Regions from separate parts of the Homo sapiens genome. Here all the other regions are linked to region 2. The links come from fine-mapping of genetic effects on gene expression. A gene starts in region 2. Each other region holds a variant in brackets. All regions are shown on one strand. Distances are from middle to middle.

Region 1 (5,155 bases), 150 kb after region 2:
CCACCCTGTTCTTACTGTAGCATGACAAGTTAGACCAGATGACCTCTAAGGGGTCCATCTGGCTTTAAAAGTCTTTGACAAGTTTCCTATGGTCTCCTTGGGAGAAGTACTTTGTGTTCAAGGTTCTGTCTTCTTCTTATCCAAAAAGGAGGAATGTGGGTTTTCAGGACTTTAGAATACCCTCAGAGAAGGTCCAGCTCTCCTCTCATGCACACATACCCCTGTTCTACCTCTCCATTTGCATATAATAGCTGAGATTAATTTAGTACCAACTATGGGCTAGGCGCTATTCTAAGCACTTTTAAAAGTGCTTTTATAAATTAGGTATACTATAAATTGCATTTTATAGTTGAGGAAACTGAGGCACAGAGGAGTTATGTACTCCAAGCTAGCAAGTGGTGGAGATGGTCTGGTTCCAGGACCTGCACTTCTACCCAACTTCTGCTCTTCACTTCCTTCCCACACTTCACTGAAGCTCAGAGAGTGAAGGGGACTTGCCCAAAGTCACACAGCAATTTACACAATGATCTCTGATCATTAAGCCATTGGAAGAGCCAGATTAAGGGCAAATAGAAGCCAAAGGTTAAAATGTCTTGGCCTCTCCCATTCTACATCCTCCCTCCACCCCCTGTTCCCATGGGCTATTTACTAAAAGCAGAGAGGCCTAGGGTGCGGTCTCATGGGGAAGTGCCAAGGCCAGGCGGGCCCTGCGGTGGTCAGCCCTCCTCTGAATGAAGCCTGGCTTCTTCGTCTACCCTCCCAGGCAGCAGCAGCACAATCAGTGGGGTGGAAGTGCCCAGGGTGGAAATGGGAGCAGGGCTGGAGCAGGAAAATAGAAAGAAAACAGGGCAGTGGCCAGGATTAGGGCAAAAGGATAGGGTGGAGGGGGAAAGACATGACCAATATGTTTTAAATGTCCACTGTGCGTGCCTAACACAGTGCTAAGCACTTTCCCTTACATCCTGAGATGAAGGTCCCATTATTACCCCATTTACGCAGGAGGAAACTGAGGCTCAGAAGGTTGAGTTATCCTGTGTGTCTACTGTGAAACGTGTCCTCTTTCCACTGAAGAAAGGGAAGGAATGACAGCAGAGTAGGAGAGGAAGGAGGAAAGAGGAAGAGAGCCAGATTCGGGAGAAAGGAGAAGAAAGTGAGTATGGGGCCTTGGCGCTCTGCCCCAGCAAGGGCAATGGGCCCAGAGTCATCCTCATCTCCCAGAAGGCTCACTGGGGAAATGTTTATGAGAAACCTCAACATTCAGAAGGGGCATGACCTTCCAGCTGGCTGTCCCGTGACTGCTGCTGGCTATAAACAGCCTGCTTATTAACCCCAGGAACCTGGCTCCTCTGCCACTTAAGGGATCGCCTGGAATGGGTGGGTTTGGAGAGCAGGAGGGTGCCTCGCCAAGAATTTGCAGACCAGGAGGAGTGGCTGCTAGGAACTAGATGATTTGTAGAGAGCTGGGCCAAAGGGGGCCCCCTCTGCTCCCACCCCTTGCAGAGTTGCTCAAGACGACATAGTGAGTTAATGTGCCCTAAAAGCCCTTAACCCAGACTTGACCACTTTAAGGGAATTACAAAGCTTGACTCATCTCATTATTTTCCCTAATGACCCATGTCATTAAAGCACTGTGGTGACATCAAATGAATTAATGGTCATAAAGGCATTTGGTAAACTGAACACCCCTGCATACCTGAGACCTTGTTTCTAGTCCAGTCCCCACCCCTATTGATCACTTAGGACAAACTCACATAGTGAGACAAACACAGAGTCACCCACCACAAGCTTACTGCCACTTACCTCCTTAGGTCGCTCAGCCACACTAAGTCCCAGCTGTGAAAGAAAGACCTTGGAGGTTATAATAGTACTGACCTACTGGGGTTGCTGAAAGGATTAACCGAGATACTTCCTATGAAGTTAGCACAGTGCCTGCACCTTTGTGTGCTCAGTCAGTGTTAGCCACATCCATGCTGTGGGTCCCATGAGAAATTCTATAAACTCCACCACCGCCACCACCACAGTAATGCTCTTAAAAATGACCTCAAATTGGAAGTTTTTTGAATGGAGAACAAGAGAGGAGGCAGGTATTTGCTGGAGCTGGACTGGGAAGAAGTAGATTTCATACACAGCTTGAAGGACTGGAAAGAGAACACTGAGAATATCACTGTGGAATTTCTGGGAAAGGAAGGGAATGTCTAAATACAAGAAATTGA[T/C]GAAATGCTTTTGGATGTTTACAACTCAAAAAAGAACAGAAAGTCTCCATCTCATTCAAGGGCAGTGGTGGGACATGGCGACTTTTCAAGGACACAGGAGCTAGTGGCTGTAAGTGAAAGGTGTTGACAACCAGCTGAGCTCACAGGACTCATCCTGCTGGCTGCTGTCTCTGCAGCGTTGCTGAGTGCAGTGGATCCTTTTTCCACCTTGCATTCCAGAAACTTCTCCCAGTGTTCCCAGTAACAGTGTCCTACCTAGAGTCTAGGAATGTATTCCTGTCTATTCCATTGCTTCCTCTTCCCATTGAATCTTTCTTTTTAAAAATATTTTGAGAATTTTTATTCACATAAGTAACAGATGATTACATTTTTCTTATAAAATTAAAACCTGACAACTATGCTAAAACCCCATTTAACCCCTTCTGCTCTTCATGTTTGTCCCAACTCCTCCCCTTTATCACAATTAGCATGGATTTAGCTTTCCAGAATTTTCTCTATGCCTACACATACATCATTTAAAATATATATGTGACAGGATTGTTTGGCTTTTCTTCTTTTTTCATAAGTAATGTTTTATACATTATTATTGCACTACATGTTGTTTTTCTCATCCACTGTATGTTCTGAAGATCTGTCCATGTCAATACCTTTGATCTACTTAATTGGTAACTATTGCACAATGTGGATGTTTAATGGTTTATTTGCCTGCTCCTCCCTGACCCAGGCTTTCACCAAGACAGACAATGCTGCTGTGAACTTTCATACGCTCTCTTGTGCACGTGTGATTTTGTTTCTCTGGGATAGAAACCTGGCTGTGGAATTGCAGGTTATCAGGGTCTAACATGCCTTGCTGAATCTTAAGTGTAGGTTTTTCCCTGGCCAGCTCCCTTGGTCATTTCTTCTTCTTTTTATTTATTTTTTATTTTTTTGAGACAGAGTCTCGTTCTGTCACCCAGGTTGGAATGCAATGGCGCAATCTTGGCTCACTGTCTCTTGGGTTCAAGTGATTCTCCTGCCTCAGCCTCCTGAGTAGGTGGGATTACAGACACCTGCCACTACACCCAGCTAATTTTTGTATTTTTAGTAGAGACGGGGTTTCACCACGTTGATCAGGCTGGTCTTGAACTCCTGACCTCAGGTGATCCACCGCCTCGGCCTCCTAAAGTGCTGGGATTACAGGTGTGAGCCACTGCACCCAGCCTTCTTCTTTTTTTAAATTTTATTTTATTCTATATAGAGAGGGTCTTACTATGTTGACCAGGCTGGTCTTGAACTCCTGGCCTCAAGCAGCCCTCCCATCTTGGCCTCCCAAAGTGCTAGGATTACAGGCGTGAGACACCACACCCGGCCCTGGGTTTCTTCTGATTCTCAGGTACTATGTCTAAATCACCAGCTTCCTGTTTCTAACTCTCCTCTAAACATCTCCACTCAAAGGTCCCTGTGGTCCTTCCAGCTCATAAAAGAAAAGTGAACTCGCCTCTCCCTTCTGTCCAGCCCCTCTCCTGGTGTACACACTCACATTCTCCTGGTTGCCCAAACATGAAAATCTTAATCACAATTCTTTCCTCTTTCCCCAGCATCTAATAAGATCTTGTGGATTTTATCTCTGTAATGTCTTCTGGTTCTCATTCCTTCGCTAGTTATCTTTGGCCAGGACTATTTTAACAAGCCCCTAACTAGTCTCCTTGTTCTCTTAGGCAATGCACCAAATTAATCCTCATAAAGCACACATGATGTCATTATCTTCAGTTGGTTTCACCTGAATACAAAATACAGCGGGATCTCCTTGCCTTGCTACTCACAGTCTTCACCACTCTGACTCAGTTTTCTTTCTCTAGTTTTGATCTCTTCAGATTCCTCCTTTTTCACACCCCAGGCACGCTGATCCCCTTGCCATTCCCAGACGTGCCTGTATTTCTTGCCTCTAAGGCTTCGTTTCTGTGTTTCCTCTCTTAGAAGTCTCTCTCCCAGCCCTGCCTGTTGAAAGTCTACCAACCCTTGTAGGGCCTCCTGAATTCACATTAAGGACGCGCGTTCCAGTGTTGTGCCACGGTAGCTGGTTTCTTAACCTCTCTGACCATCAGTTTTCTTCTCTGTAAAAAAGGGTAGGATACCTTCCAGGTCTATGGGGATTTGTTTGTTGGTTTGTTTGTTGGTTGGTTGGTTTGTTTTTAAGAGACAGGGCCCTGCTATGTTGCCCAGGCTGGTTGCAAACTCCTGGGCTTAAGCAATCCTCTTGTTTTGGCCTCCCAAAGTGCTGGGATTACAGGCATAAACCACGGTGCCTGGCCTGTGGGGAAGTTTTAATGAGATTATGCAGGTAAAGCACTTAGCACAGTGCCATGCACAGAGTAAAGGCTAAATACACCTTACCTCTTATTGTCAGCATACCCCTTCCATAAAACTGTGCCCAGCCTCACTATCGAAGTGAATTTCCTACCTTCCTGGGCTCTCCTGTCTGTTACAGTGGGCACTTGGTTATTTAGGTGTGTCTGTCCTCACACCTGATAATGACCCCCTGAGGGGCAGGGATTGTCTTCTTTATTTCTGCATGCCTCATAGTGTCCCCAGCACAGCACCTGGACTTGAACTGAATGTAGGCAGAATGTTGTACTGCTGTCAATTTATTTGGAAATACAGAAGAGCGCCTGATAATGAAATCATCAGCTTTGCCTCCAAAAAATGAGGCTAATACTAATGCTACTACCTGCTCACAAGGTTGGGGTAAGCTTATGTATGTGAGATAACTTTCTAAATCGTTTTTTTTTTTTTTTTTTTTTTTTGAGAGAGAGGGTTTTGCTCTGTCACCCAGGCTGGAGTGCAGTAGTGTGATTATAGCTTTGTGTAACCTCAAACTCCTAGGCTTGAGCTGTCCTCCTGCCTCACCCTCCCAAAGCGCTGGGATTACAGGCATGAGCCACTGCACCCAGCCTCTTTTTCTT
Region 2 (5,127 bases):
AATCTCCTAGCAGATCCCCTTCTTCTACTCTTCCCCCAACAGTATTCAGTATTTCCAACACAGGAGACTTCAGTGACCCTTTAAAAAATATGTCTTGGCCAGGTGCGGTGGCTCACACCTGTAATCCCAGCACTTTGGGAGGCCAAGGCAGGTGGATCACCTGAGGTCAGGAGTTCAAGACCAACCTGGCCAACATGATGAATCCCCGTCTCTACTAAAAAAATACAAAAATTAACTGGGCATGGTAGCAGGTGCCTGTAATCCCAGCTATTTGGGAGGCTGAGGCGGAAAGAATTGCTTGAACCCACGAGGTGAAGGTTGCAGTGAGCCGACATGGCACCACTGCACTCCAGCCTGGGCAACAGAACGAGCCTCTGTCTCAAACAAACACAAAAGTCTTATCCAGAATATAAAAAGAACTCATATAACTTAACAACAAAAAAGACAAAAAATCCAATTTAAAAATGAGCAAAAAGCATGATTAGATATTTTTCCAAAGAAGATGTACAAATAGTGGCCAATGAGCACACAAAAAAGATACTCCACATCATTAGTCAGAAGGGAAATGCAAATCAAAAACACAATTATAGATGCCATTTCATAATGACTAGAGCACAAGTTTTTTGTACTTTTGTTTTTTTGAGACAAGTTCTCACTCTGTCGCCCAGGCTGGAGTGCAGTGGTGCAATCACGGCTCACTGCAGCCTCTACCTTCCAGCTTCAAGGGATCATCCCACCTCAGCCTCTCCAGTAGCTGGGATTGCAGGCATGTGCCACTACCCCTGGTTAATTTTTTGTAGAGATGCGGTTTCGTCATGTTGTCCAGGCTGGTCTCAAACTCGTGGGCTCAAGCAATTCACCCACCTCGGCCCTCCCAAAGTACTGGCATTACAGGCATGAGCCACTGTGCCTGGCCGGGTACAAATTTTTAAAAAATAAAATACAAGTGTTGGCAAGGACATGGAGAAATTAAAAGCCTCATACATGACATGGCTGATGGGAATATAAAATGTTGCAGCCACTCTGAAAAAATGTTTGGCAGTTCCTCAAAAACTTAAATGTAGAATTACTATATGACCCAGCAGTTTCATTCCTAGGTAAATACACAACGACAATTGAAAACAGGTACTCAAATAAGTATTTGTATGCAAATGTTCATTAGCAGCACTATTCACAATCAGCAAAAGGGGGAAACAATGCACTATCCATCAACAGATGGATGGATAAACAAATTATAGTGTACTTATACAACGGAAAATTATTCAGCCATTAAAAGGAATGGAGTGCTGGACCGGACACGGTGGCGCATGCCTGTAATCCCAGCACTTTGGGAGGCAAAGGCGGGTGGATCACCTGAGGTCAGGAGTTCGAGACCAGCCTAACTAACATGGTAAAACCCCATCTCTACTAAATACAAAAATAAATTAGCCACACGTGGTGGTGCATGCCTGTAATCCCAGCTGCTCGGAAGGCTGAGGCAGGAGAATTCCTTGAATCTGAGAGGTGGAGGTTGCAGTGAGCCGAGATCACGCCATTGCACTCCAGCCTTGGCAACAAGAGCAAAACTCCAACTGAAACTAAAAAAAAAAAGGAATGGAGTGCTGATACATGCTACAGTGTGGATGAACTTCAAAAACATGCCACATGAGGCCAGGCACGGTGGCTCACGCCTGTAATCCCAGCACTTTGGGAGGCCGAGGCAGGTGGATCACCTGAGGTCGGGAGTTCAAGACCAACCTGACCAACATGGAAAAACCCCGTCTCTACTAAAAATACAGAATTAGCTGGGTGTGGTGGCGCATGCCTGTAATCCCAACTACTCGGGAGGCTGAGGCAGGAGAATTGCTTGAACCCAGGAGGCAGAAGTTGTGGTGAGCAGAGATCACGCCACTGCACTCCAGCCTGGGCGACAAGAGTGAAAAAACAACAACAAAAACAAACAAACAAAATGCCACATGAAAGAAGTCAGACAAGAAGGGTTGCATCTCATGTGATTCCATGTATATGAAATATCCAGAATAGGCACATCCGCAGAAGCAGAAAGCAAATTGGTGGTTGCCAGAGACGAGGGGTAAGGGAAAGTTAGGAGTGACTGCTCAGTGGGTATACTGTTTTATTTTTCCGTGAAGAGAATATTTTGGAACTAGATAGAGGTGGTGGATACACAACATTGTGTCTGTACAAAATGCCACTGAATTGTTGACTTTAAAATGGTTAATTTTATGTTGTGTGGATTTCATCTACCCAAAAATAATACCCTTTCTTTGCTCAATATCCTGCAATGGATCCCCAGTTGACTCAGAGTAAAAGACAGCGTGCCTTCAAGGGCCCCGGAGGTCCCACCTGATTGGGTCCCTCTTATCTCTCCTCTCCCTCCCACTCACTCCATTCCAGCCACACTGGCCCCCCTGCTGATCCTCGGAGGCGCCAGGTGGCCTCCTGCTAGGAGCATTTGCTCCAGCAGTTTCCTCTGCCTGGAACACTTTCCGCAGGTATCTGTCCAATTCTTCTAACTTCCTCATCTTCTCCTTACCAATCCCCTGGGGACAATAATTCTCAGTTTCCTCTGTATTCTCAGTTTATCAATTTTTCCTGTTCTAGCGCTGGATTACAACTGCTGGTCTCCCTGCCTGCCTTCCCTGCTTCCCAGAGCACGAAGAAGCTTGCCTCCGCAACCCACTATTTGTGTGACCTTGGTCCAGGAACTGGACTGGGCTCTCCTCCTGAAAGTGGGTAAATAATGTCACCGACCTAATGAGGCTGTTGAGGCATGGAATCTGATCAGGCAGATAAAGTGCCCCTGGCAAACCTCAATTTTCTGTTTCTCAACAAAGCTTTGGCGACTTATAAGAATTTGCGGGAAAGTGTCCAGAACCCGGAGTCAGGAGCCCTGACTTCTAGCCCTGAAGGGCCGCGTGACCTTGGCCAAAGCCCCTAATCCTTCTCAGTCTCAGATCCGGGGGCTGGAAACTGAGGAGGTTCTCCCGGCAAGCCCCTCGGGCTAGTGACATTCTAAGATTCCAAGAGCTAAGGAGCTAGAGGGGTGGGGTGGAGGAGGGAGGCGGGCGCGCCGGATTGGCCTCTGCGCGCCACGTGTCCGGCTCGGAGCCCACGGCTGTCCTCCCGGTCCGCCCCGCGCTGCGGTTGCTGCTGGGCTAACGGGCTCCGATCCAGCGAGCGCTGCGTCCTCGAGTCCCTGCGCCCGTGCGTCCGTCTGCGACCCGAGGCCTCCGCTGCGCGGTGAGTGGGCTGAGGCTGGAGAGGGGAGTCGCTCTGGGAACCCCTTCCCGGGGGCTGCAGGGACACAAGAAATAAGCGCCCAGTCATCGGCTGATGGGTACCCCCCGCCAGGAGCAGGGACGGGAGGGCGCGGTAACCCGAGAGTGTCGCAGACTGGGTGTGTCTGGGGAGCGCAGCGGAGCAAATCTGGGGTCGGGGCGGAGAGGCGCGGGCGGAGGGCGCCCTGGCTAGGGGGAGGGGAGGGAGTCCCGTTGCTGCAGAGGGTCTGGTTGAGGGTCCTGGGCGCCGGAGCTGAGCCAGGGGCTGGTCCTGCCGGCCTTAATTTGGGGGGGCTCAAGAGACTTTGAAGGTCCGGGGTTGGGGTCAGCTGGACGCCAGTCAAAGGACCCGCAGAGAAGGGTGTGGCTGAGGCCCAAGACTGAGAGCAAGAGCGTTGGACCCTCCAGCTGCTTATAAAATGGCTTGTGTGTGGTGTCGGGGGAGGGCTGCCTGCGTGCAGAGAGCTGAACGTCCGGTCGTACATACCTCAGGGCCTCATTGGACCCCATCCCCTTTGGGCCACTGCTTGTCTATGAATGCAGTCTCCCAACGGGGCTCCGAGGCCTCCTATGGTGAGGCAGGGGCACTACCCTTCTTTCTGCATCCCCTAAGCGGTCTAGGCCTTCCCAAAGTTTGGGGGCTTCAAATAATTCCCCATATACCAGCATGGGAGCAAAATACCCTGAATCGGAATCCCAGCCCCTGTTGCAGTGTGACTTTGGGCGGTGGCTTTCCCTCTCTGAGCCTGGATTTCCTTCTCCAAGTCCATAGTTGAGAAACCCAGTCTCTTTCAAAGGAAACAATGGCTTTGAAAACTGATTTATTTGTCAGCTGTATGGAATGATTGCAGGTTTGGGAGTCTTGATTATAGATTTGGGAAGCCTGGCACAACCCTTGTAGGCCCTACAAGGGGAAAGGGCAGGAGGTCCTTTGGGACAACTAATCTGGCCACGGCTTCCTGCCTCCTCCTTCCTTTCCCTAGATTCTAGTGGGTCTTCTCTGACAATTCCAAATTTGGACATATGGCTCCCGGGTTTGTGAAAGGACTCTGGTTTCCCCCCAAGAGTCCGCCCTTTTCCCTCCATTATTCCTTCCCCCTTGCCCAAAACATGCTTGGGATTGCTTCCACTGACCCAGATGGCATATCCTGACCTGCGTAGCCCTTCATGGTGAAGTGAATGACCGCCCCAGTTTCAGCCCCTGTGGACCCTGACCTCCTAGCAGGCAGGCCCTGAGCCACGCCGAGGGCACTGGCCTGGGGTCAGAGGAAAGCCCGGTTACAGTCCGGATGTGCTGGGACTTCTTGAGCAAGCCCTTTCTCTAAGGCTTTGTGCCCCATCTGGAGCAAAGTCTGCTGAACTGGCTGCCACTGCCAGTGCAGACATTCTAGGATTCAACTGTTCTAAGATTTAGGATTCTGGGAGTTGGATGGGACTGGGGAGGGCAGGAGGCAGAGGCTTTCATCCCCCTCTGCAGCTGTGACAATCACTCATCCATCTTTCTTTGCCTTATCTACCCTTTGTTCCTAAGGCAGCATCTGCTGAGATACAGAAAATACTTGCAGTTTCTGGATAAGGGCCACAGCTGTTGCTGGGGCAAAATGTAGATGTGAGTGTGCAGAGGAGGGGCCAGGGAAGCCCAAGGCCTGGCCTCTTGAGACTGACTCCTGGGATGAAGTGGGGGAGACTGCAGTGCTGGATAGCTGCCAGTGACTGGCACATCCGCACTGCAGCATCCAGAGGGAGCCCTGGGCCACCAGGATCCAGCCTCGGACCCAGCCCCTGCCCTGCCACTAATCAGCTAGGCGCCCTGGGCACACCTACTACCCCTCTGGGGCTTAGCCCCTTC
Region 3 (5,155 bases), 30 kb after region 2:
AGGCCATCCCATCCCCCTTCTGAGGCAGCCAGAATAACTCTACCTCTTCCTCCCTCTTCACAGTGAAGTGTATCCGGAGCACCCCGGAATATTTTGCTGAAAGGCTCTTCAAGGCTATGAAGGTGCGTGGTGGGGCTGATGTGAATGGGGTTTGGGGAGAGGACTATTGGGAGTCTTTGACAAGTCCTTGGGATCCAGTGGCCAAAGAGAGCCCTTCAGGGATGGCCACAGGACTGACCCTGGTGAAGGTGCTCTGTCGCAGGTGAGCTGTAGAGCCAGGAATGCTGCTGGTCACATGTCCTGCCACCTGCATACCTGCCTGACGTCATGAGTCAACAGATGAACTTAGGGTGGCAGCCTGCACCTGATCCCTCCAGCCAAATGGGTTGGCGGCTCGGACTTTGAAGAAGTATTAACCAGAATGTTTTTATACAGCGTATGTAGGCAAGACCACTTTGGCCTTGCCTGCTAAGACTCATGATGCTCACCCTGTGACAGTTCCACTCTGGGTGTGTTTCTGAGAAAGCTTCCCAGGCTTTTACACATATGACGCACAAAGAAACTGGTATTTTTGTGATGCACTGGAGGAAATGAATGCAGTTATTTGCTGCCAGAGGCCTGAGGCCCGAGACACAGGAGCTTGGGCCTTTCTGGCCCTGGTTGGCCATTCCGAAAGGACAAAGTAGACTGTCGGCCATTCTCTGCCCACCAGTGTGCCATAATGAGGTTGGGCAGCTCAGCCCTAGAGAGATGTTTGCCTGTATGCATGAATTCATTAAGAATGCCCATCACAAGGCTGAGTGCATGCAGTGGCTCACACCTATGATCCCAGCACTCTGGGAGGCCAAAGTGGGAGGATCACTTGAGGCCCAAAGTTCAAGACCAGCCTGGGCAACATAGTAAGACCCTTGTCTCTACAAAAATAACAAATAGAACTAGCCAGGGACTGTGGCACATACCTGTAGTCCTAACTACTCGGGAGGCTGAGGCAGGAGGATTTCTTGAGCACAGGGCCCCTGGGTTTGAGGCTTCAGTGAACGCAGTGCTATGTGATCACGCCACTGTACTCTAGCCTGGACAACAGAGTGAGACCCTGCCTCTTCAAAAAAAAAAGAAAAAGAAAAAAAAAACTTATAACAGTATTGCTTATATTAGGAAAAAGCTAGAAACAACCCAGTGACCATCAGGAATAGTACAGCAAAAACCTAAATGCACAGTGGTATATTTGCAGAGTTCCAAAATGTGTAAATCTAAGTGTATTGCTTAGAGTTACAAAGCTATGGTAAAATTATAAGGAAAATCAAGTGTGGAAATTATACATGAAGAGAGAAGAGGTTTATAACAGTGAGAGGGCCGGGCATGGTGGCTCATGTGTGTAATCGTAGCATTTTGGGAGGCCAAGGCAGCCCTTGAGGCCAGTTCAAGACCAGCCTGGCCAACATGGCAAAACCCCATCTCTACTAAAAATACAAAAATTAGCCAGGCGTAGTGGTGGGTACCTGTACTCCCAGCTGCTCAGGAAGCTGAGGCAGGAGAATTGCTTGAGTCTGGAAGGCAGAGGTTGTAGTGAGCTGAGATCGTACCACTGCACTCCAGCCTGGACAAGAGTGAGACACTGTCTCAGAAACAAACAAACAAACAAACAAACAAACAAAACAGTAAGAGGAGCATAGAGAGAGCTTCAATGGGAATGGCAATGTCTGCTTCTTTTGCTCTAAATTTTAACTTTTTATTATGAAAATAGGATTTTCAACTAAGCTGGGAGCTATCAGCACTCTAGCCTCCTCTCAAGTCCATGTTCCCCAAACCCACTTGTCTTGCAGGGCCTGGGGACTCGGGACAACACCCTGATCCGCATCATGGTCTCCCGTAGTGAGTTGGACATGCTCGACATTCGGGAGATCTTCCGGACCAAGTATGAGAAGTCCCTCTACAGCATGATCAAGGTCAGCAGAGCTCATGGGGGCAGAGAAGGGAGCAAAGAGCTTTTTGCCAAGACAGAGGGCTTGGGGACTATTCCCAGGAAAAGGAAATGTCCTAGGAAGTGGGAGTCTCTTGGACATTCCAGGAGCTCCTGCCTTGTGGCTCATTCAAGGAATTTAAGGATATTCAACAGAAAAGCAAGTGTTAGGGGTGTTTGTGAGTGGTAAGGCTACAGAAGGAGGCAGGGGCTGGGTCATGAAGGACACGCAAGCTGAATTAAGTGCGAGGACTCTGCCCCAAGGGCAGTGATAGTTCAGTCTCCTGGAAGAAGGCTGGGAAACACTGAAGAACACAAATGAGGGTTAAAGGGGAACCTTTGGCCTGGGCC[G/A]GGTGATTGGTGATGACTCTGGGACATCCGGCCCCTGAGGCTTTATCAGGAGACATATGTAAAGCTAGGGGTTTTCCCTTTTTTTTTTTTTTTTTGGATGACTGAAATAAAACTTTATGGGGTGACAGAGAAAGAGATCCAAGTTGTATTCTCCAAAGTATGTTTCCAAAGGGTAATTTTTTTAGGTGTTATGTGCAAAATGTTCTATGGGAAAATAAGTTTGTAACAAACCACAATAAGCAAAGATAAATAAGCCAGTTTCTTTACCTCAGAACTTCTCACAGCCTTTCACATTTTGAAGTCCATTATGAAGCCCCAAGAGGGATATGGAATATGCATCTATACGGATATGTGCATCTGTGTAATATATATTTGTTTGATTTTTTTGCATTTCCCAATATTTTTGCTCATGGAACCCCATTTCCATGCATATTTCATGTGGAAGGACTGGGCTGGGGACTGTCTGGTGGCAGTGCTGTGCTGGGGCACTGGCTTGAAAGGGCAGCGAGCATCTCTTCTCAACTCCGCATATTGGTAGCAAAGTCATATTGGTAACTTGAAATTGTCCATTGCTAGAAGTATTTACACCACAGAAATAGGCAAATGCTATAAATTAGGGCTTCCTCCAACCTGCCCGCTGAGAACCAGTTATTCAATATTAACCAGCACAGGAGGGCCAGGGCTGCTATGAATAAGTGTTCATTCAGCCTTCCCCTCTTTCAGGCTGTGCAGAACCTTCACCTCCTTGTCTGAGAGGAGCCCAGGGCTGGGTGAGAGGTAACCTTTCTTTCTTTCTCTTCAGAATGACACCTCTGGCGAGTACAAGAAGACTCTGCTGAAGCTGTCTGGGGGAGATGATGAGTAAGTGGCTTCTTGGCCCCTGGCTGGAGGGCATGGCCTTGGGGTGCCAGGCGGGGACTCTCCTGGCTCGCATCCTGATGGGTGGATTGGATGAGCTGGGGATTCCCCTGAGCCAGGAGCGTCGCACAAGTGAAAGGCGGCTTTTGCTGGTAGCTGCTGTGCTTGTGGGTCTGTGTGTCTGAGAGTGTGGGGGTCTGAACGTGAGCGTGGTCTCCTGTATATGGAGATGTCTGCTCTTGTGAACTTGGAAAGTCAGTCTGGGGTTGTGGACTAGGAACCAGAATATGAGCATCCAATCCCTGCTATTTCATAGCCATTTCTCGGTTTCATCACCTGTTAAATGGGAAAAGGACACATTCCTGCTCTGCCTACTCATTTATGCAGCATATTTGTGTTAAGTGCCTTCTGGGTGCAGACCCTGTGAGGAAGCCCCTGATGAAGGCCACAGCGCAGAAGGGTATAGACCAGTTTCCAGAAGGGAGCAGTCCTGTGCTGGGGAGAACTGGCTGTGCCACATAGAAAGCATATATAAAAGCACACAGAGATGCCCTAGCCCAGACCAAGGGGAGACTCTTTGGAGATACACGGTGAGACCCAAGGAGGAAGGGGAAGAGCCAGGTGAAGAGGGTCTGGGGACAGTGTTTGGGTGGAGGAAATCACCTATAGAAAAGCCGAGGAGTGAGAAGGAGTGGCCTGATTCATTCATATGTCCGAAGTCATGCATTTATGGAGTACTAGAGAGAGAAATAAGGCAGAGAAGTGGGAGGGCCTGGGGGCCTCTTCCCAGAATGTTAAATTGGGACATTACTTGACCAGATTTGTGTTTGAGAAAGGGAACAGGCTGCGCTCTGATTTCCTTTCTCTGGATCTTATAAAGATCCAATTACAGAAGGGATGCAAGAATTTCCTGTGAACCTTTGGTAAGGACCATAGGGGTTGATGCAGTTCAGCAGATATTACTGAGCTCCTGATGCATCCAGGCACTTTGCAGGAGGAGATGCAGGGCTGGCATGGCCATAGCTTGCTCAATGGCCTCTTTGAGAGGGGAGAGTTGGATAGAAGCCATTCAAATTCTAAGGAAGAAAGGGGAGGCTGAAGGATTGGAAAAATCCTATCCTGCTTGGACTCTGCAGCCAGGAAGGCTGCCCTTAAAAGCCAGCATTGGCCGGACACAGTGGCTCAGCGCCTGTAATCCCAGCACTTTGGGAGGCTGAGGCGGGCGGATCACCTGAGGTCAGGAGTTCAAGACCAGCCTGGCCAACATGGCGAAACCCCATCTCTACTAAAAATACAAGAATTAGCCAGGCGTGATGGCGGGTGCCTGTAATCCTAGCTACTTGGGAGACTGAGGCAGGAGAATCGCTTGAACCTGGGAGGCAGAGGTTGCAGTGAGCTGAGATCGAGCCACTGCACCCCAGCCTGGGTGACAAGAGCAAAACTCCGTCTCAAATAAAAATAAAAAATAAAAAAGGCAGCATTGCAGGGGGTCTCAAGAGATGGAAGGTTCTCAGAAATGGAGGGAGGACTCTGGCGAATGGAGGAGGCATAGGCTGGAGAGAAAGAAAGCTTAATGTGTGTGTGGTGTGTGCACGTGTGTGTATGTGTTGGGGTGTGTGTGTGTGTGTGTGTGTGTGTGTTGGTGTGAGTGTTGCCCATGATGACATTCCTTCCTGTCCTCTCCCTAAACCCCTCCATTCCAGTGCTGCTGGCCAGTTCTTCCCGGAGGCAGCGCAGGTGGCCTATCAGATGTGGGAACTTAGTGCAGTGGCCCGAGTAGAGGTCAGACCTTCCCCTCCTCCTGCTTGACCTCTTGACCACAGCTTCTCTGCTTGCACCTTCCTGCTGCTCTGGTTGGCACCCAGCTGCCCCCTGGCGGCCAACCCGACACGTTGATTCTCACATCTGAAGCTTCCTTTTCTCCCTTGGAGTGGTGAACTGGTGGAGGGGCGCACCTGGTTTCTGCATTAGCTTCTGACACGCTGG
Region 4 (5,155 bases), 57 kb after region 2:
CACCAAGCCATTGAGGTAAGGGGAGGGGCTAGAGGTTAGCAGGAAGCGGGTGAGTGTCAGATCCCTAATATAAGATTAGAAGTCTTTATTCCCATGGACTTTTTTCCAGTGGGTTACCGCTTAGAACAGCCAGGATATTGAAATGAAAGGGGGTCTGTATTGCATTGTTTATACCGAAATCAATTCCAAAAGAATCAAAGGTTTATAATTAAAGATTTCCAAATAAAACAAGAGCCCATTTTTTGCTTTTTTTAAAGCAATGTTATGGAAGTATAACTTACATATCATGGGCAGGCATGGTGGCTCACACCTGTAATCACAGCACGTTGGAAGGCCAAGGCAGGTGGATCACTTGAGGTCAGGAGTTCAAGACCAGCCTGGCCAACATGGTGAAACCCTGTCTCTACTAAAAATACAAAAATTAGCTGGGTGTGTTGGCTCATGCCTGTAATCCCAGCTACTCAGGAGGCTGAGGCAAGAGAATCGCTTGAACCCAGGAGGTAGAGGTTGCAGTGAGCTGAGATCACGCCACTGCACTCCAGCCTGGGCAACAGAGCAAGACTCCATCTCAAAAACAGACAAACAAACAAACGAAAAACTTACATATCATAAAATTCACCTGTTTTAAGGGTACAATTCAACAGTTTTTAGTAAATTTACTGAGTTGTACAACCATTCCCATAATGCAGCTGGTTTCCAAACACTTCTATCATCCCACTAAGCTCTCTCATACCTGTTTATCTAGTTCCATCCCCAGCCATAGGCAACCACCAAGCTACTTTGTGTCTCTGTAGATTTGCCTTTTCTGAATATTTCATATAAATGGAATCACCTAATATGTGACCCTTTGTGTCTGACTTTTTGTTTGTTTGTTTGTTTTTGAGACGGAGTCTTGCTCTGTCGCCCAGGCTGGAGTGCAGCAGTGCCATCTCATCTCACTGCAACGTCCACCTCCTGGGTTTAAGCAATTCTCCTGCCTCAGCCTCCCGAGTAGCTGGGACTGCAGGCATGCATCACTATGCCTGGCTAATTTTTGTATTTTTAGTACAGACAGGGTTTCACTGTGTTGGCCAGGCTGGTTGCTAGCTCCTGACCTCAAGTGATCCACCTGCCTTGGCCTCCCAAAGTGCTGGGATTACAGGTGTGAGCCACCACACCTGGCTGCGTCTGACTTTTTTGACATATGGAGCTTATATTTTTGCTCTTTGAGATCAGCCAAGATCTTAAAGTCTGATGCTTGGTTCTACTTGGCTAACGAGACTATGGGCATCTCAGAGGCAGTCTCTTACAGACTTAGTAGGAATGTAAGTAAATTGTTGGCACATTTTGATACTATATTATGTTTTAAAATCATACATCAAAAAATACAAGGACAAACAAAATCCCGAAAACCATGTCTCATAACAATGATAGGAGTCCCTCAGAAGGGAGATCCATACCATACCATGGGTCAGGAAGTTTGGCCTCCCCAGTCTGAACGTATACCAGACCACTGTGATGTGTGGTGAGCGTGATGGTGTTTGTACCCATTCCCAGCAATGGCTTGGCAGTTAGCACTCAATGTTGTTTGTTCAAATAAGAAATCACCTAACACGATATGCCAAGGGCCATGGGGGAGGGTATCAGCAGAGTGCCAGGGGAACCAAGGGAGGCCAGAGTTCACTGTGCCTCCTGACGCAAGAGAGTGGCCAGAGTGCTTCTCAGAGGAGAGGGCCCTGCTGGCAAATGGGATTGGGGGTGCACAGGGGCATGTTGGACAGGGGAGTGACAGGTGGAGAGAGGACTGAGATGCTCCTGGGGGAAAGGAACAGGTGAAGCTGCAGAGCTCTGCACAGGTCAGATCCCAAAGGGCCTTGAAGCCAGGCCGGGAGCTTGCATATCTTCCTGGGGATAAACAAAAGGGACGTGGTCACATTTATGTGTCTGGGAGATCCCAGTAGCCTACATGTGGCATGGGATCCTATGTTGGTCATGGAGAGAAGCCGAGGGAGATGTCCAGACAGATGGGCAGCCGGGAGGAGGGGGCATTGAGACTGGAAGGACTGTTTTCACTCACTCTGCTCTCTGCCTCTGCCAGGGTGACACCTCCGGAGACTTCCTGAAGGCCTTGCTGGCTCTCTGTGGTGGTGAGGACTAGGGCCACAGCTTTGGCGGGCACTTCTGCCAAGAAATGGTTATCAGCACCAGCCGCCATGGCCAAGCCTGATTGTTCCAGCTCCAGAGACTAAGGAAGGGGCAGGGGT[G/T]GGGGGAGGGGTTGGGTTGGGCTCTTATCTTCAGTGGAGCTTAGGAAACGCTCCCACTCCCACGGGCCATCGAGGGCCCAGCACGGCTGAGCGGCTGAAAAACCGTAGCCATAGATCCTGTCCACCTCCACTCCCCTCTGACCCTCAGGCTTTCCCAGCTTCCTCCCCTTGCTACAGCCTCTGCCCTGGTTTGGGCTATGTCAGATCCAAAAACATCCTGAACCTCTGTCTGTAAAATGAGTAGTGTCTGTACTTTGAATGAGGGGGTTGGTGGCAGGGGCCAGTTGAATGTGCTGGGCGGGGTGGTGGGAAGGATAGTAAATGTGCTGGGGCAAACTGACAAATCTTCCCATCCATTTCACCACCCATCTCCATCCAGGCCGCGCTAGAGTACTGGACCAGGAATTTGGATGCCTGGGTTCAAATCTGCATCTGCCATGCACTTGTTTCTGACCTTAGGCCAGCCCCTTTCCCTCCCTGAGTCTCTATTTTCTTATCTACAATGAGACAGTTGGACAAAAAAATCTTGGCTTCCCTTCTAACATTAACTTCCTAAAGTATGCCTCCGATTCATTCCCTTGACACTTTTTATTTCTAAGGAAGAAATAAAAAGAGATACACAAACACATAAACACATTTCCAGTGAGGGCCTCTGTCTTCTACCTAGAGCCTGCAGCCTGGATTTTCCTCATTAGAGCTTGAGGTTGTAAAGTCTGTCCAGGAGCGAGTTACGTCTTTAAATTCTTGCAAGGTGTTTCCCGGGAAGCGCACAGGAGAATCTGAGTTTGCAGCAAGCCTGGGAAGGCTGGCCCAGCCCTGCTCCGGGCCTCAGGTTCCCCCTCATCCCCTCTCGCTGTCTGGACATTTCTGTATGCTCTTCATCCATTTCAACCAAGCCCAAACTTCCTCTTTTGAACTATGCAAGGGTGCCCGATGTGATCTTGATCTGGAGAGGTGCATGGAAAGTTTCCTTCATGCAGGTCACTGATAAGCAAGTAGGCGCAACTGCAGTTCCTCTGCCTTCCCTCCCCCGCTGCCCTACTTCTGGTCTGTGGCTTTGGTCTAAGATTGTCCAGTGACCATGGCATGGGGCTGGCTGCTGGCCAAAGGGCACTTCTCCCTACCCTGGCTGACCAGACTAGTTTATTGCAGGTTAGCGCGTGTTTGTTTTCTTTTCTTTCTTTTCTTTTTCTTCTTTTTTTTTTTTTTTGAGATGGACTTTCGCTCTTGTTGCCCAGGCTGGAGTGCAATGGCATGAATTTGGCTCACTGCCACCTCTGCCTCCCGGGTTCAAGCGATTCTCCTGCCTCAGCTTCCCGAGTAGCTGGGATTACAGACATGTGCTACCACACCTGGCTAATTTTGTATTTTTAATAGAGATGGAGTTTCTCCATGTTGGTCAGGCTGGTCTCGAACTCCTGATCTCAGGTGATCCACCCGCCTTGGCCTCCCAAAGTGCTGGGATTACAGGCGTGAGCCACCGTGCGCGGCGCATGTGTTTGTTTTCATAGCTGTGAAGACAGCAACAGGCAGGTGAGAGAGTCTGGTCTCGTCCCTCCCTCACTTGTGACCTCAGACCAGCCATTGCCCTCACTGGGCCTCAGTTACTCCAACTTTATAGTGGGGGGTTGGATCCAACAATTTTGAAGAGCTCTCTCTTAATCTCTGACATAATGAGTCTGAAACAAAGAAAAGTTACCTTACCGTGTCTTTACTTCCTTTCTTCTGGGCTGTGAACTCAAGTGCCTTGAGGGCCAGCTAAGAGCTTTTTGGGATATTTGTCTAACTTAATTGAACTGTTACTGAAAGATAAATTAACAAAATGGTTCAGAGTTTTGGATTAAGACCTTTGTAACTAACTGACCGTCAGCACAGGAGCTTCGGTTTCCTTCTCTGTAAAACAGGGCTCCTCATTCCAATTCCACCTATCCTGTAGCCTTGTGGGAATAAAAGGAGGCACCACGTGGAGGTGCTTGGCAGGGTGCGTGCCTGGCTCGGAGTCAGTCTCACTACCTGCCCCGAACCAGGCTCAGTTGTAGGGGCTGAAAGGTGGAGCCCATGATGCTTTATGGCTTTGATTTCATGAAGTCCGTCAGCTGCAGATCACAAAGGCATTTGAACCCAAAAAGAAAAGTGCCTTAAAATATATACTGAGGGAAATGGGCTTGGGGCAGAAAGGAAAGAAGAGTGGAATCAGGGAATAGAAGTGAGGAGAGCCCATGGAGCTGAGGGGAACACAGAAGAGGAGGCCTAGAAACCAGGAATGAGGACAGCTAAAATCGGGCAGTAGCTGTCTGATGCCTCCCTAATGCCTCAGCATGCATTTTCCACATAATTTTCAGTTAAGGTAGTTGCATTCTGGTACTGGTCGGTAGCAGGAAGGAAACCCTAAGAGTTTGTGAGGTGAGGTAGACAAGATGAGAAGTGACAGTTTGTCTCCAATTAAGGAGGACTTTAAATGTCAGGATTTTCTCTGATAACCTAGGGGAAGCCTTTGGAGTTCTTGAGTGGGGAAGGTGTGCGTCTAGCTATGCTCTGAGGACAAATGTAGGAAGGCAGGGTGCCATTCGGGAGCCTTTTGCAACGGTCCTACTAAGAGCTCGGTGCCAGCTGAACAAACCACATTTTTTTCTTGGAGTTTTAGCAGAGGAGGAGAGTAGCCACTGTTCTGAACCAGAGCACCCCATTCATGCATGCATGCAGTTTACACTTAATGAGTGGCTCCTATGTTCCATGCCACGTGCTAGGTGCAAAACATACAAACCAATGTGGTTCTGGTGCTTAAGGAGCTTCCACTGAGTGTCCCTCCTGCTCAGCTCTCTCCAAAATGACACTGGAGATTGCTTCTGTGGCCAAAGTTTAATCGGGAGAAGCGATGGGGGCTAATTTAAAACTAAAAGGAAAGAGAAAGC

The links. PIP is the estimated chance that this variant, and not a neighbour inherited with it, causes the effect.
Region 1: its variant is fine-mapped to the expression of ANXA6 in lung (TOPMed, PIP above 0.99).
Region 3: its variant is fine-mapped to the expression of ANXA6 in lung (TOPMed, PIP above 0.99).
Region 4: its variant is fine-mapped to the expression of ANXA6 in whole blood (INTERVAL, PIP above 0.99).

The regions. Positions count from the first base shown.
Region 1 is chr5:151,002,456-151,007,610 of GRCh38, reverse strand. No RefSeq gene overlaps it. Among named protein-coding and RNA genes, the nearest start is that of GPX3, 16 kb to the left of the region's middle. The variant T/C (reference allele first, on the strand shown) is at 2,214.
Region 2 is chr5:151,155,793-151,160,919 of GRCh38, reverse strand. ANXA6 (annexin A6) reads left to right here and starts at 3,141. Exons shown (of 26, transcript NM_001155.5): 1 at 3,141-3,240. RefSeq lists a silencer at 2,269-2,328 and an enhancer at 2,124-2,980.
Region 3 is chr5:151,126,198-151,131,352 of GRCh38, reverse strand. It overlaps ANXA6 (annexin A6), which reads left to right. Exons shown (of 26, transcript NM_001155.5): 11 at 64-122; 12 at 1,824-1,946; 13 at 3,114-3,172; 14 at 4,873-4,951. Among named protein-coding and RNA genes, the nearest start is that of ANXA6, 29 kb to the left of the region's middle. RefSeq lists an enhancer at 5,040-5,155. The variant G/A (reference allele first, on the strand shown) is at 2,312.
Region 4 is chr5:151,098,430-151,103,584 of GRCh38, reverse strand. It overlaps ANXA6 (annexin A6), which reads left to right. Exons shown (of 26, transcript NM_001155.5): 25 at 1-15; 26 at 2,078-2,879. The coding sequence ends at 2,137. Among named protein-coding and RNA genes, the nearest start is that of TNIP1, 20 kb to the right of the region's middle. RefSeq lists enhancers at 4,830-4,879, 5,070-5,155. The variant G/T (reference allele first, on the strand shown) is at 2,244.